2 separate regions of the Homo sapiens genome follow, and region 2 is linked to region 1. Evidence: fine-mapped expression QTL. A gene starts in region 1. The other region holds a variant in brackets. All regions are shown on one strand. Distances are between the middles of the regions.

What was found.
Region 2: its variant is fine-mapped to the expression of SUPV3L1 in lymphoblastoid cells (TwinsUK, PIP 0.95).

What each region holds. Positions count from the first base shown.
Region 1 is chr10:69,176,636-69,184,635 of GRCh38, forward strand. SUPV3L1 (Suv3 like RNA helicase) reads left to right here and starts at 3,599. Exons shown (of 15, transcript NM_003171.5): 1 at 3,599-3,927. The coding sequence starts at 3,657. RefSeq lists an enhancer at 3,314-3,683.
Region 2 is chr10:69,118,092-69,126,520 of GRCh38, forward strand. VPS26A (VPS26 retromer complex component A) reads left to right here and starts at 6,087. Exons shown (of 9, transcript NM_004896.5): 1 at 6,087-6,189. The coding sequence starts at 6,187. RefSeq lists enhancers at 5,321-5,680, 6,545-7,051 and a silencer at 5,941-6,340. The variant C/CT (reference allele first, on the strand shown) is at 3,873.

The sequences.
Region 1 (8,000 bases):
GTGTTGGAACTTAATCATCAAATTCATATATTGATTGGAGGTGAGGCCTTTGGGAAGTAATTAGGATTAGATAAAAGTTCTCAGTGTGGGTCCCCCATGATGTGACTGGTGGCTTCGTAAGAAAAGAGAAACCTGAGTTGACACACAGGTCTTGCTCTCTGGCCATGTGATGCCTTCTACCAGGTTATGTCAAGAGGGCCATCACCAGATGCCAGCCTCTTGATCTTGGACTTCCTAGCCTCCAGAACTAAAAGAAATAAATTCATTTTCTTTACAAATTACTCAGTCTGTGGTGTTCTGTTATAGCAATGCAAAATGGAGTAAGTGTTATCTTGGCCCTATCCTGAAGGAACTTTAATCCAGAGCAGTGGTTCTCAAAAGTGTGGTCTCAGACCAGCAGAGTTGCATCATCTGAAATGTTTTAGAAATGTAAACTCTCAGATCCCACTCCAGATCTACTGAATCAGAAACTTCAGGGATGGGGCCCAACAATCTTGTTGCACTCTAACGTTTAAGAACCACTGACCCAGAGACACAATTACGATAGTTTTCATTCTATGATAGAGCCTCTACTGGGACCTGTGATATGTAAGAGAAGCACCCAGTGTGTTCAGAGGTGCAGAGGTAAGAAACGATGATATAACTGGTGTATAGTTCCAGCATGAATAGAATGGTAGATGTGGGGAGTAGAAATAAAGCTGGAAGAGGCATATAGGGCCAACCAATTTAGGACAGAACCTGGATGCCATACGATGGAATATGGGCTTTATCTGAACATTTATTCAGAATCACCAAAGGACTCTAAGCAGGAGTAACTTACCAGATTTGTGTTTTCAAAAGATCATTATGGTGCTACGGCAAAGTATAGGAGGATACCAGTTACATAGTTACTGCATTAATCCATTCAACAAGCAAAATAAAACATTTATAGAGGCTCTAATATGTGTTAGGTGCTGATTACACTTACTGCTATAAATATGACATAACCAGTATAGATATGACATCTTTTTTTGTAAAAGCAAAAATTTTATATTGAATTTTCCCATTTCAATGTTTATAGTAGAACTTAATGAATGGCTGAAAGGGAAAGCCTGTATGTGCTATCATAAAATTCAGATTGCATTTTCTACCTGCAAGGAGGTGCAAACAAAATTACAGTTAAAATAGTTTTGAGGATTTTTTTTTTCTGTAAAACTATACTAGGGTTGGGCTAGATCTGTAAGACTAGTAACTGCCAGGTGCTGTGGCATGCACCTGTAGTTCCAGTTACTCAGGAGGCTGACACAGGATTGCTTGAGCCCAGGAGTTCACGATCACCCTTCCAAAGAAAAAAAAAGACTCGTACAAATGTTGATTCTGGCCTAATATGCTGCTCCTGTCCAAAAAGCCCACCTATTTGCTTTGAAATCAGAAAGACTGGCTGGGCACGGTGGCTCACACCTGTAATCCCAGCACTTTGGGAGGCCGAGGCAGCTGGATCACTTGAGGCCAGGAGTTCTGAGACCAGCCTGGCCAACATGGTGAAACTAAAGAGAATACAAAAATTAGCCAGGTATTGTGGTGCAAGCCTGTAGTCCCAGCTACTCGGGAGGCTGAGGCATGAGAATTGCTTGAGCCTGGGAGGTGGACGTTGCAGTGAGTTATGATTGCACCACTGCACTTCAGCCTGGGCAACAGAGTGAGACTGTCTCAAAAAAAAGAAAAAAAAAAGATTTAGATTTGTATCTGACTCTACCACTTACTGGGGCAAGTTAGTTAACCTGGTGACAATAATACCTCTAAATTGTTGTCAAGCATATTAAAAGATTAAAAGGAACAACATAGTGCTTGCCTCAGTTACGTATTAAACGTTTGGTTTATCCTTCATTCTCCTAGTTTCCAAATCTGACGAGACATCATTGTTTATTAACATTTTCTAGCATATTTAGTCACTCACTACATTATCTAAGGAGTCTTGTAAAACCTCTCATTCCACATACATGGTCTCCATCATAACTCAGACACAGGAATCTACCACCTTCAGCTAGAACTGTTGATAAAGTTGTAATTTTCCTCCCTGCATATTTGTGTTTATCCTAGTCTATCCTAGGTACTTCCTAATGAATGATTTCTCTTCTCAAAAATATAATCACTATTTGTAAGCCATAGAATTAGGTCTGCGTTAACTCTGTTACTTAAATTTTTTTCAGTATGTCTTTTCCTTAGTTAAGCCTCTGCTTACATCGTTTCCACTGACTAGAATTTACTTACCGCTTCTCTATGTTTTACTTTTAAGTCTGGCAGAAATCTCCTTACCACTCTCAAATTGCTCCTTTCTTTGAACTGCCATTAGTCTATTAGAGTAATAAGTGCATTATTTAACGTGTACTGTTCTTACCACCAAAACCAGATCAGAACCTTTGAAAGCAAAGGACTGTCTCCTTGTATCCCTGATGTTTAAAAATTATTTTGTGAATCAAAGGCACGTGGCAAATTGTTACTGGAATCCTATTAGACATACAGTATTGTATATTACATAACACGTTCCTTCAAGTTGTAAGATCTTAATGATGTAAGTATAAAGAGATGTGGATGGAGATGCTAAACTTGTGAATTTTTTTTTTTTTTAGACGGAGTCTCACTCTGTTGCCCAGGCTGGAGAGCAGTGGCCCGATCTCGGCTCACTGCAACCTCTGGCACCCAGGTTCAAACGATTCTCCTGCCTCCGCCTCCCTAGTAATTGGGATTACAGGTGTGCACCACCACGCCCGGCTGATTCTTGTATTTTTAGTAGAGAGGGGATTTCACCATGTTTGCCAGGCTGGTCTCGAACTCCTGACCTCAGATGATCCACCGGCCTCGCCCTCCCTAAGTGCTGCGATTACAGGCGTGAACCACCACGCCCGGGTTAAACTTGTGAATTTAACATGTTGCAGCCTCACATGAGAACACGGTATTCAACAAATGCAATGGAACGAAACTATGGCTGGGGTACAGAGCACGTATTTTTGCCATGTGGTCACAACTATGTGGTCATAGCTGCTAGGATGATGTACGCAAACTGCTCACATTAAAGCAAAAGTACTTACGTAATACAAGGGGTTTAATAGTGCAACAATATTTCTTAGCAACATTTCTGAGGGGCATATCAAGTTATTATCGCTAACGTTATCATATCAGGAAATGACGGTTAACAATGCAAGAAACTTTTGGGAAATGCTATTTAGTGTTTGAGTCCGCAAGACATACTCGTACCCTGAGCATTCGCAGTTGCTGCTCCACCACCCATTCTCTCACTGCTCACCCACGTGCTTCTGGACACTTGCTTACCAAAGTACTAGTTTGCATCACGTGACACGACTAGCAGGCCCCCTCCGCTCATGTATGACATCCCAAAGATGCCTGATTATTTTCCCTTCTTTAGGGAAAGGTGGTCCCAATCACCAACAAAACAGAGAAAGAGAACGAGAATTATCTCTAGTGGTTTTGCCTGCTAATCTTCTTTTTCCCTGAAAGAACACCCTCACGGCACGGCGTTTTCCTTAACGGTCAGGCGTTTTCCCGGGCAGCTTACCTGCTCGGCCTGGGTCTTTCTGGACAGCAGGCGCTGGAGGTGCGCGTCACTGTCCGCCGCCGTGTCCGCGGCTGCGCCAGACAGTGTAGAACCTGCGGCCTCGATGTCCTTCTCCCGTGCCCTATTGTGGGCTCGGCTCCCGGCGGGGCGCCAGGCTGGCCACCGGGCAGCCATCTGCTCTGCCCTTCGTCCCCACTTTGGGCCCTTTCCCGGGGTTCTGGGGCAAGTTTCTGTCCTTGCCACCGCCTCCTCCTCTGCCTCCGGTGGCTCCAAAATACCAAACACGTCCTTGTTCGTGCCCCTGACTGTGAAACCTCAGGGCCCCAGCGCCGACGGCGACGTCGGGGCCGAGCTAACCCGGCCTCTGGACAAGAGTGAGTGCGGGAACTACTGAGGGCGGCAGAGGGTGGTGTCTGCTGGGCCGAGGCTGGTTGGGAGGAAGCTACATCCCCTTCCCCTGGGGATCCGAGGTCCCATCGAGTGTTGTCATCGTGCCTCTCAGTGTCTGCCTCCTTCGCTGGTGTGTGAGCCCCTCAAACGGCTTAGGACTGTATCTGATTAATTCTTAACGCCTCGTCCCAGAAGCGGCCTTTTCCCTTTTACTGCCCTGCTCTCTGAATGGTTTAGACACTCATGTGTTGGGAAGATTTGACTTTTTTGAGTTGTTAGGTGGACGCCCGCTCTTTCTTGCATTCTTTGTTTCTCTCCCACCCCCGAATGGGATGTGGCAGTGAAAAGCCAGCGGAGACTCCTTTTAGGATTCTTTATCATTGAGGAGGCGCCGACTCATACCACGCTGTTAGGCTGTGTGGTGGTTGCCAAGAGGAACCAGACTCAGATCCAGATCCCCTCTTAAGAAACGTAACGGTATCGTGGGGGAGGACACGTGTATGGAAAGTGAACTGTAATACAAGGTAGAACATGACAAGGTCTAGAACAAGGTAGGGTGTCCCCGGCTCCAGAGAGAAAAGAAGAGGTAGCATCAGTTAGTGGCAGCGGGCTTTGCTCAGCAAAACTTAAGTTTGGATGGATTCGTTGACAGAGAGGCATGTGAATGTTTTCAAGGTGAGTTTCGGGATGATTAGGGAGGTAAGGGAGTTTCCTCTGACCATATGAAACTGGGAGATTGAGGAAATGCTATCCAGAATTGTCTCCAGGAATAGGAGGAGAAATGTCTCACTTCAACAAGCGACATTGGTGCCTCCTATTGTAAATCTAAAATATAGACTACAATATGTTTTTCAGAGCAGAAGTACAGTACTTTCACTAAACATGTGATGGAACTCACAGTATATGTTATTCTTTGACATATTCTTCCAGTGTTAAGCAAGGCCTTTCACTTTACTTGGTGCTGGGAGACTGTCTTTATTTTCTGCTGTTATAACATAATACCTGAGACTGAGTAATTTATAAACAATAGAGGTGTATTTGACTCATGGTTCTGAGCCGGGATCTGATGAGGGCCTTTGGCTGCATCATCACATGGTGGAAGGTGGAAAGGCAAATGAGCCTGTGAGACAGAGAAAGGGGGCTGAACTTATCCTTTTTTCCTGTGATAACTGACTCCTGTGATAATGGCATTAATCCACTCACAAAGGCAAACTCCTCATGTCCTAATCACCTCTTAAAGGTTCCACCTCTCAACTGTTAAAATAGCAATTAAATTTCAATATGAGTCTTGGAGAAGACATTCAAACCATAGCAGAGAATGTGTTATTTTAATAATGTAATTATACTATTATTTATTTTTAAATTATAAAAATACATAAAATTTACTCTTTTAAGCTTTTTTTTAGTTTTTTTTTCTTTACTTTTTTTTTTTTAGAGACAGGGTCTTGCTCTGTTACCCAAGCTGGAGTATAGTGGTATGATCATAGCTCACTGTAACCTCCAACTCCCAGACTCAAGCAATCCTCCTGGCTCAGCCTTCTAAGTAGCTAGGAATACAGGCGTGCATCACCATGCCTGGATAATTTTTTAATTTTTTGTAGAGATGGGGTCTTGCTATGTTGCCCAGGCTGGTCTCAAACTTCTGGGCTCCAGGGATCCTCCTGCCATGGCCTCCCAAAGCCCTGAGATTACAGACCTGAGCCACTGCACCCAGCCAGTCTTAATTGTTTTTAAGCACATAGTTCACTAGCGTTAAGTATATTGACATTGTCGCGAAATAGATGAGAACTTTTTCATCTTGCAGAGTTGAAACTCAAACAATAGTTTACCCATTAAAGAACAATTTTCCATTATTTTATATTATTTGAAGGCATAAGGTAATTTGGATGAGATAATTTGCCTTATTGTATTCAAATATTGATAAATTCTTATTTTCTGCAGCTATTCCAATTCACCTGAAAATGTAAATGTCTTTGCTGCTTCCTGTAAGAAGATAGAATAAAGACATGGGTTTGTCAGCACTAGATTTTCTTCTGGTGGAGAATCCTTAGATACTTCATTGGGTCTGTGTGCCAGGTGATTTTTCATCTCCTTTGACTGGGATTGGTCCAGATGTTGAATTTACTAGAATGATTTTTCAGCATGGCAGGAGGGGCTACAGAAGATGGTGCATTACTACACTCTGATATAGCCATGTGGTTAAGGTGTCAGATTTCCACTTAGCTTAGCAATCAGGACAAGAAGCTGTCACTTCTCAATCTCTTTTGCCTACTCATAACCCAAAAAGTTGAGGTACTTAAAGGCTTTGTCCTGCGTCACCTTGCTGCCTTATTCTGTGCTGTCTATGGGGTGTCTCATTCTCTCTCTCCCCTCACTAATTCAGTATTCCTCTCAGATCTTTGTCTCTACCCTGGACCTCTCTCCTTCACCCTGGACCTATATATCTCGCTGCCTACCAGGTGTCTCCACTTGTCTTTCTTACACACACCTCACCTTAGCATGTCAAGACAACTTACCTTCCCCTCAGCCTGCTCCTGCAGGTGCTCAGGTCAAAACCTGGTAGTCTTTGTTCTTCCATCCCTCACCCCTACATCTAACAATCAGAGAAAGCCCAGTTAATGAGTCTTGTTGATTCTACCTCATAAATGTTGGATTCATTCATTTCCCTCATTCTCCACTGCAACCAGCTTAGTCTAAATTGCCAGCTTCCATCTTTTGACTGGACTGCACATATAGCCCCTTATGTGTCTCCTCATATGCCTTTGATCCCTTCATTCTATTCTCTACCTGCAGTCAGAATGTTCTTTTAAAAAGACTAGGCTGGGCGCAGTGTCTCGTGCCTGCAATCCCAGCACTTTGGGAGGCCCAGGAGGGTGGATCGCTTGAGCCCAGGAGCTCAAGACGAGCTTGGGCAACATGGCAAAACTCCATCTCTACAAAAAATACAGAAATTAGCCAGGCATGATGGTGTGTGCCTGTAGTTCCAGCTACTTGGGAGGCTGAGGTGGGAGGGTTGCTTGAGCTTGGGTAGTAGTAGAGGTTGCAGTGAGCCGAGATTGCACCACCACACTCCAGCCTGGGTGACAAGAGTGAGACCCTGTCTCAAATAAAAAAAGAAAGATACAATTTTAATTTACATACTAGAAAGCTCACCCTTTAAAAGTGTATAATTCACTGGGTTTTAGTGTATTTGCAGGATTGTACAATCATCACCATAATTTCATTTTAGAACATTTTTATCACCCTAAAAAGAAACCTGATATCTGTTAGCAAGTCACTCTCTAGTTCCCCAGTCCCCAGTGTCTTTTTTTTTTTTTTAGCTCCAGATAACCACTAATCCACATTCTGTCTGTTGATTTGCCTGTTTTGTGTATTTCATATTTATAGTGTCATATAGTATTGGTCTTTTGTAACTGGTTTCTTTTACTTAGCATAATGAGAAATTTCACATTTTGGAAGCATTTTAATTTGAGTAAAGCAGCATGAATCTTATATAACACCGTAGTATTAGTCACAGAAAATAGGTTAATTCTAAATAAATGTGATCTGTCTTTAGTTTGTATCGAGTTTATAGGTCAGCAGAATTTTCCCAAGCAATGATGGCATGTGCCTTTTTCCAATCTTTTATTTGTCATTGGTTTTTCTACCCTTGATACCAAGAAACTGTTGGCCAGGTGCAGTGGCTCACGCCTGTAATCCCAGCACTTTGGGAGGCTGAGGCTGGCAGATCACCTGAGGTCAGGAGTTCGAGACCGGCCTGACCAACATGGAGAAACCCTGTCTCTACTAAAAATACAAAATTAGTCGGGCATGGTGCATGGTGATGCATGCCTGTAATCCCAGCTACTTGGGAGGCTGAGGCAGGAGAATCTCTTGAGCCCGAAAGGCGGAGGTTGCAGTGAGCTGAGATCGCGCCATTGCCCTCCAGCCTGGGCAACAAGAGTGAAACACTGTCTCCAAGAAAAAAAGAAACTGTTGTTCCTACCCGGCACAAAGTAACAGAGACCCAGAAATCTGCCTGTGATCTGAAATATAAATACACACACACACACACACA
Region 2 (8,429 bases), 58 kb before region 1:
GGCTGGCAAGTTAGTTCTGGCTATTTCCAGGTGATCTCAGTTCCTCACTATGTGGACCTCTCCATTGGACTTCTCCCAGAATGAGTGACCCAAGAGAAAGCAAGTCAGAAGCAGCCGTGAAAGTCACACACATCACTTCCATTTTATTCTGTTGGTCACACAGACCAGTGTTGACAACATTTGAGAAGGGACTACAAAGGAGTGTAAATACTGGAAGGCAAGGATCATCGGGGAATATCTTGGAGGCTGGCTACTATAACACAGTCATTTCAAAAAAAAATCATAAGAGTTGGAACATAAAATTGGAGAAATTATTTAGAAAGGAGAACAAAGAGACAACTAGATGGAAAATAGAAAAGAAGAGATAAGAAAATGACATAATCAATTCAGGAATTCCAATATGCAACTAATAGAAGACCCAGGATGAAAGAGGAGAGGAAAAGATGGGAAGAAATTATCAGAGAAATTTAGCAAGGTTTCAAGATACCAAGTTATTGTAGAAAAGTCACACACAAACACATGCACAAGCAATGAACAATTAGAAAATATTTTTTTAAAACAAAATTTTAAATTTGGTATAGAGACGGGGTCTTGCCATGTTGCCCAGGCTTGTCTTGAACTCCTGGGCTCAGGCAATCCTCCTGCCTCGGCCTCCCAAAGTGCTGGGATTACAGGTGTGAGCCACCATACCAGGCCAGAAAATAAAAAAAAAAAATTAATACAATTTACAATAGTGTCAAAAAATAAATGCTTAGAAAAAAATTTAACAAAAGATATGAAAGGTACTGAAAACTACAAAACATTGCCAAAAGAAATTAAAGCTGTTTTCTCTACTTATTTAGAAAAATAGATAAATACACCATATTCATGGATTGCAAGGCCCAATATTGTTAAGACACCAATTTTCCCCAAATTAAGGTGTAGGTTCAAACCATTTCCAAGCAGTAGATTTTTTTTTTTTGGAGAAGTGGATTCACAATTTATAAATGTATGTTGGAATACAAGAACTTAGAATAGCCAATGCATTTTTGAAAAATAACAAGTTGGAATAATTACAGTACCTTACTTCAAGGTTTACTATAAAGCTATTGTATTGAAGACAGTGTAGTATTGCATAAATATAGACAAACAGATCAATGGAAAAGACTAGAAATTTCAGAAATAGGCCCACAATTATACAGTCAATAGATTTTTTACAAAAACACCAAAGATATATCTATCTATCTATACAGACATATATATATGTATATATATATATACATATATATATATACATATATATATATATATATTTTTTTTTTTTTGAGATAGAGTCTCACTCTGTTGCCCAAGCTAGAGTGCAATGGCCCAATCTTGGCTCACTGTAACCTCTGCATCCCAGGCTCAAATGATTCTTCTGCCTCAGCCTCCTGAGTAGCTGGGATTACAGGCACGCACCACCACACCCAGCTAATTTTTGCATTTTTTAGTACAGACGGGGTTGCACCATACTGGCCAGGCTGGTCTTGAACTCCTCACCTCAGGTGATCCACCTGTCTCAGCCTCCCAAAGTGCTGGGATTACAGGCATGAGCCACCGCGCCCGGCTAACACCAAAGATATTTAAGGGGGAAAGGTAAGTGTTTGCAACAAATGGTGCTGGAACCATGTAGACACAAATAAGCTCTCAAATCTTACCCCATACTATTTGCAAAATTTAGTTTGAGATGGATCTCATTTTACATTTTACACCTAAATGTAAAAGTCCAAATTCTCAAGTCATCAACAGACATTGTTAGGAAAGTAAATAAGCACACAGAGTGGGAGAAAATATTTGCAATTACTACATTTGATACAGGACTTATATTCAAAATATTTGATAAACTATAACTCAATGAGAAAATAAACATCTTAACTAAAAATTGGCAGTCTTGACAGGCACTTCCCAAAGGGAGGTATATGTGAATGATACATATGCACATGAAAAAGTGTTCAGAATCATTAATCATCAGGGAAAAGCAAATTAAAATCACAGTGAGAAAACCACACACTCATAAGAATGACTAATGTTAGAAACACTGACAACACCAAATGTTAGCAAGGATATAGAAACAATATTTCACACACTCGTGATGGGAGGATAAAATGGCACAAACAGTTTAAAAAGTGATGTGGCATTTTCTTGTAAAATTAAATATACACCTAACCCAACCCAGCAATTCCACTTCGGTTAGGTTCACAAAAAAGGCGTGTACATAGTAGCACTTTGTTCACAATAGAAAAAAATGGGCAAAAAGATGTCCACTGACAGGAAAAAGGATATTTTGTGGTCTCTTCACAAAATGGAATACTACTATAAGCAATGAAATGGAACAAACTGCTGATGCATACAACAACATAAATAAGTATCAAAACCATTTTGCTTAGGGAATGAAACAAGACACAAAAGAACACTTGTGGTATGATTCCATTATTATTTTGCTATAGAACACACAAAGCTAATCAATATCAAAAAAAAATCAGAACAGTGGTTGCGTCTAGGAGATGGGATTGATTGTGAGAGGATGTGAGAAAGTTTTCTGGGGTTGATGGCAGTCATCTATATCTTGATGAAGGTGTGGGTTAAACAAATGTATGCTTTTTTTTTAAGAGTCAGGGCCTGGCTCTGTAGCCCAAACTGGAGTGCAGTCGCACCAGTGTGGTTCACTATAGCCTGGAACTCCTGGACTCAAGCAATTCTCCCGCTTCAGCCTCCTGAGCGGCTGTGACTACAGGCATGCCCCACCACCTGGATAATTTTTAAATTTTTTCTAGAGACTAGGGTCTTGCTCCACCATCCAGGCTGGAGTGCAGCGACACGACCATTGCAGCCTTGAACTCCTGGCCTCACGCAATCCTCCTGTGTTGGCTTCACAAAGTGCTGAGATTATAGACATGAGCCACGGCGCCCTGTGACACCATGCACAATCAAAATGTATGCAATTGTCAAAACTGATCAAACTGCACACTTAAGACTAACATATGTCACTGTATGTACATTATATCTCATTTTAAAAAGAAAAGAGGAATAGTGAGATAAAACATTAAGTATTGGTACATTTAAGAAAAAACTGTATATTGTGAAAAAATGTTTGGCTTTTATAATTGTAATTTTTTAAAAAAAGAATATTTACCATGATTACAGCTGCACTCGCTAAAGTTTTTAAGCAAAATCTATTCTATGTGCTCTGGGAGGTTAAAAGAAAAAAGTGTTTCTATACTTCACTGGCATGCTTTAAATTGTATTTTATTTTTAAATTAAATTAATTTATTATTTATTTTTTGAGACAGGGTCTCGCTCTGTTGCTCAGGCTGGAGTGCAGTGGTGCAATCTCTGCTCACTGCAAACTCTGCCTCCCTGGCTCAAGCTATCCTCCCACCTCAGCCTCCTGAGCAGCTGGTCCAATAGGCACATGCCACCACTCCCAGCTAATTTTTGTTCTTTTGCAAGAGACAAGGTCTCACCATGTTGCTCAGGCTGGTCTCAAACTCCTGGGCTGAAGTGATCCACCTACCTCAGCCTCCCAAAGTGTTGGGATTACAGGTGTGAGCCATTGCGCCCGGCCTAAATTGTATTTTCTTTCTTTATCCTTTTTGTGTATTTGTATTTTATTCTCTTCCCTTAACTTTGCCAGTGAACTCTGCAAACAGCTGCTCCCTGACACTCTCACAGTTATTAATGTGAATTTTTAGTCTTTGTGAATTTGAACAAATGACTATTTTTCTCTTAACTGGTTTCTGATTGATAAAAGCTCAGATTATCTTATCATCTAATACTTTCTGACCTAAACTCGGTACTTTTGTTGATGAAAGTCAATCCCTGTAAGTTAGTCACATTTTCCTCACACACCCCAC[C/CT]TTTTTTTTTTTTTTTTTTTTGGCAGAGGGCAAATATAGAGATGCCACAGTTCTCAGCTGGTGAAACACTGTACTGCTCACAATCTAGCTCTAACATTCTGGCTTGCTGAATAGATTGATAGGTAGGCAGACAGACAAATAACTAGCTCAACAATTCTGTTGCTTCTTGTATTTATTATGATAGCACAATTATTGATTGGGTTTTGATCAGTAGAATAAATAATTAGTACAAATTGGTTTCTAGTGTGACTTTCTTTGCCACCTCTTATTTATACCTGGCTTCGCTAGTATTTCTTTGCCTGTGTGGCATTTTCATCTATTCTCTTTGTTATGTTGATATTTAAGTCCCAGAAAAGAGTGGGTAGGAACCAGAGTAGCTCTCAAGGTGACAGGCAAATCTTCTAAGTGAAAAAAACCATTTTTCACTTTTATTAATTAAAGATTTGCATTGTTTTTGCTGCTTTCTTTTCACAGTTCAAACAGACAACAATATCAGTGTTACTATAGTTATTTATTTTTTTTGAGATGGAGTCTCGCTCTGTCACCAGGCTGGAGTGCAGTGGCGCAATCTTGGCTCACTGCAATCTCTGCCTCCTAGGTTTAAGTGATCCTCCTGCCTCAGCCTACCGAGTAGCTAGGATTACAGACGTGCACCACCATGCCCCGCTGATTTTTGTATTTTTAGTAGAGACGGGGTTTCGCCATGTTGGCCAGGCTGGTCTCAAACTTCTGACCTCAAGTGATCCGTCCGCCTCGGCCTCTCAAAGTGCTGGAATTATAGACTGTGAGCCACCATGCCTGGCCCAAATATGTGCATTTAAAGCTACAAATTTTCCTTTTACACAGTGTCACTGCATTCCACAAATTTGATATGTTGTATTATTATCTTTTATTTCAAATTATTTTATTTTTATTATTTTTTATTTTTGAGACAGAGTCTTGCTCTGTCGCCCAGGCTGGAGTGCAGTGGCTCCATCTCGGGCACTGCAACCTCCGCTTCCCGGATTCAAGAGATACTCGTGTCTGACCTCAGGTGATCCACCTGCCTTGGCCTCCCAAAGTGTTGGGATTACAAGTGTGAGCCTCCGTGCCCGGCCTCAACTTATTTTTAAATTTCCATTGATCTCTTCTTTGACCTAGAGATTTGGAATTATGTTGCTTAATTTCCAATATTTCCGGAATTTTCTGGCTTGTTTGGGTTGATTTCTAATTTTAATTCTATTGCGGTTAGAGATGATACTCTGATTTCAATCCTCTTAAATTTGAGGCTCACACTGAGGATTAAGTATAAAAAAATTTTTTTTGATACCTGTTTCATGGACTCGCCTCACAAACTTCTGTTTTAAGGTGGGGTAATTATAGTGCGTTCAGGGATGGATTTTTCTTCTGCTTTGGTTATGCATAGAGTGCACTGTGGCCCTTCAACACTATACTCTGAAATCCCACACAGTATTTTCCTCATCTGGAGGTCCTATAGGCTTACACTAGGGAGGAGGATCCAGTTCAGGCCAGCGTAGTCTTCAGCTGCGCCGTGGGACTTTCGGGGGAGCGCCTTTGCCCTCTCAGAACGGCTGGGCGGAACGGTGGGTTTGTGAGCCCTCCAGGCTCAGGGTGGGTCGCTCAGGGGCCATCTGGGGACTTTGGGAAGCAATGAAAGTTGTACCCTAGGATTTTTTTCTACTGGTCTTCTCTTCAGAGGCGAGAAAGCCAAGTTAAGAAAACCCAGACTCAGAAGGAGGTGGAGCGGGACTGCGTTCAGGCAAGGTGGCAGAACGCCTCGCCGTGGACGAAGAGAGCACATCTCTTCTTGCGAGGCCTAAGGAAGTAGGGCTCCCACTCGCCTCGGCAACCCAAGGACCCAGCCAAGGAGAGAGCCTCCAGATGAATCCTTCCTCTCCTCCTTCCTTCCCAGCCGCTCAAACTTTCACAAAGAGGAACTGGGTGCGGTAAAGAGGCCGGACACGGAACCGCTCGTCCGGTGACCGAAGAGACGGCGAGGAGGAGCCCGCGAACCCGCCTCTGTTCAGGCCCCGCCCACTCGACGTAATTTGCCCGCCCCTCTCCACCCTCCGAAGGGTGGAGCCTGAGGCCCCGCCTCCAAGCGGCCTCTCCCCGGAGTGCCTGGCGGCCAGCAGGGCGGGGCAGGAGGCTGGGAGAGGGACGGGTGCGGGGGTGGGGGAGAGGAAGGGAGCGGTCACGTGTGAGGGGCGGCCCGAGGTCACGTGACGGAGCGCCGGAGCGGAGGGAGCCGGGGCTGGGAGTTCTCCTGAGGGAAGAGGAGTGGAGTAGGGGGGACGCGGCGGCGGCGTTGACAATGGTGAGTGCGCGGCGGCCAGCGCGCTCGCCTCCCGCCCTCGTCCCGGAGCGCGCGGCGGGCCGGCCAACCGCGGGCCGGGCGTCGCCGGAGGAGGGGACGGGGGAGCAGGGCGGGGAGCGGGGTTAGGCCTGTCGGGCCACCCCTGGGTCTGGGAAAAGCTGGCGGCGCCACCTCTTCCCGGTCTCGGCGAGGCCCGAGCACCTACGGGCGGCGGCGTGCTCTCCTGGCCATGTCGGAGCCTCTGCCCGCGTTCTTCGACTGCTTGTTGGGGCTCTGGCTGGGGACTCGGACCCCGCCTCTGCGGGGGCTGGTCGCCGCCTCCCCTTCCTAGGTAGCCAGTCCCTGTTCTCCTCCCGGGCAGCCTCTCTTCCATCCAGGTGGGGCGACCCGGGAGCCCCCCACCTCCGGACTCTTCGGGGGACTTGGGCACTCAGTGTGTCACGAACTTGATAAACTCTGATATTTTAAAACCTGACTATGGTGACATTCTTTGATTTCATGACCCCAGTTCAGGCTTTCTGTTGACACTTGTAAAATGGGAGAGAAAAATAAAAGGACGTTGGAATGGGGGATATCTTTAACTCCAGAGACACCCGTTTGGTGCCCGCCGTTTTAAGCATTGGCTCTCATTTCCGTCCGCAAGCTATTTCGCTGAACTTAACGCTCTGGGTTGTTGAAACGGCCTATGAGGCAGAGGAGGGAGGGGAATCAGTGCTCTCACCACAGTCCGCGGAAGCACTAGCCTGGGCATTGTGGTATTTAGCTGGGTGTCGGCAGTCTCTAGGTTAGATCTCATTTTACCCATTTTCTGGTAGTAGTCGTCAGTTCTCTTCATTTAGCGCCTACTGTATGCTCTCCTAATACTACCTGCTCTTCCCAAAGCTCACTGATTCAATAGACTGCTTGAGACTTTTGGCTTAAAAGGCCGAGCCAGGTATATTTTTAAAAAGCTACTTTGAATAAATAACTTTTAATTTCAGTAATGATGTTGCTTTCAAAACAAAACAAAACAAAATCCAGACATTCATGTTCATTCTTAGAGCTTTTTTTCTTTCATTCAACAAATAATTGCTCAGGTGTGCCTAGGGGACCCCAGTAAAATGGAAACAGCGCCTACCTGCTCTCGTAGCTTACAATGTAGGGAGAGATAAACATTTATTTGTGTAAATTATTTGTTTAACGTGGAAATTAGAATTGTGACAGATACTAAGAAGGAAGTATTGGGGGACCTTGCCTAGTCAGTGTTAGGGCAGGCTTCTTTAATTGAATATCATTTGAAAAGAAAACTTAAAAGGTCCTCCTATTTTTTGCTTACATTTGTAATTATTACTTTTAATACGCTTTTTTGAATTATGTTCAAGAGCAGTTTATATTTTCAAGTTACCCAAACAGAAACTAAATTGTAAAACTTTAAAACACTGAAATGGTCACAGATGTAATATATGTATGAAAATTTGCTGTTTCATTGCTTGTGTATGGGCTAAGTGAATGAATTTTGAGAGTCAGCCTTCCACCTCAGAAATGCAATGAGTTGCATTTCTTTACATCCACTGGACTTAGTGAAATTCCTTCAGTGGGGACTAAAAAGTTGCCTTTTTATGTATCTACCATGTATTTTTGCTAATTGGTAATGCTCAATATTGGGTTCAGAAATTATATGAAAAATCCTAAATTAACCTAAAGTCAGTGATAGGAGGTTTAGGCCAAGATTAGAAAACTATAAAAACAATTGCTAGCATGTTTTTATAGTCATATATATTGCAGTCCAGTTATTTAAAAGCTCAAGAGTTTTAACTTGCATATTAATAGTTAATCCTGAAAATCGCAATATTCCAAATGCGCCCTTGAAGATATCTTTACCAAAAGAAGTGAGTAGTATTTTTGCACTTAAAAGATCTCACGGGGTGCGGTGGCTCACACCTGTAATCCCAACAATTTGGGAGGCCGAGGTGGGCGGATCACCTTGAAGTCGGGAGTTTGAGACCAGCCTGGCCAACATGGCGAAACCCCGTCTTCACTAAAAATACAAAAACAAAAAAAAATTGGCCAAGTGTGGTGGCGCATTGCTGTAGTCCCACCTACTCGGGAGGCGGAAGTTGCCTGACCAACATGGTGAAACTCCGTCTCAACTAAAAATAAAAAAATTAGGTGTGGCGCACACCTGTAATCCCAGCTACTCAGGAGGCTGAGGCAGGAGAATCAATTGAACCCGGGAGGCAGAGGTTGCAGTGAGCCGAGAT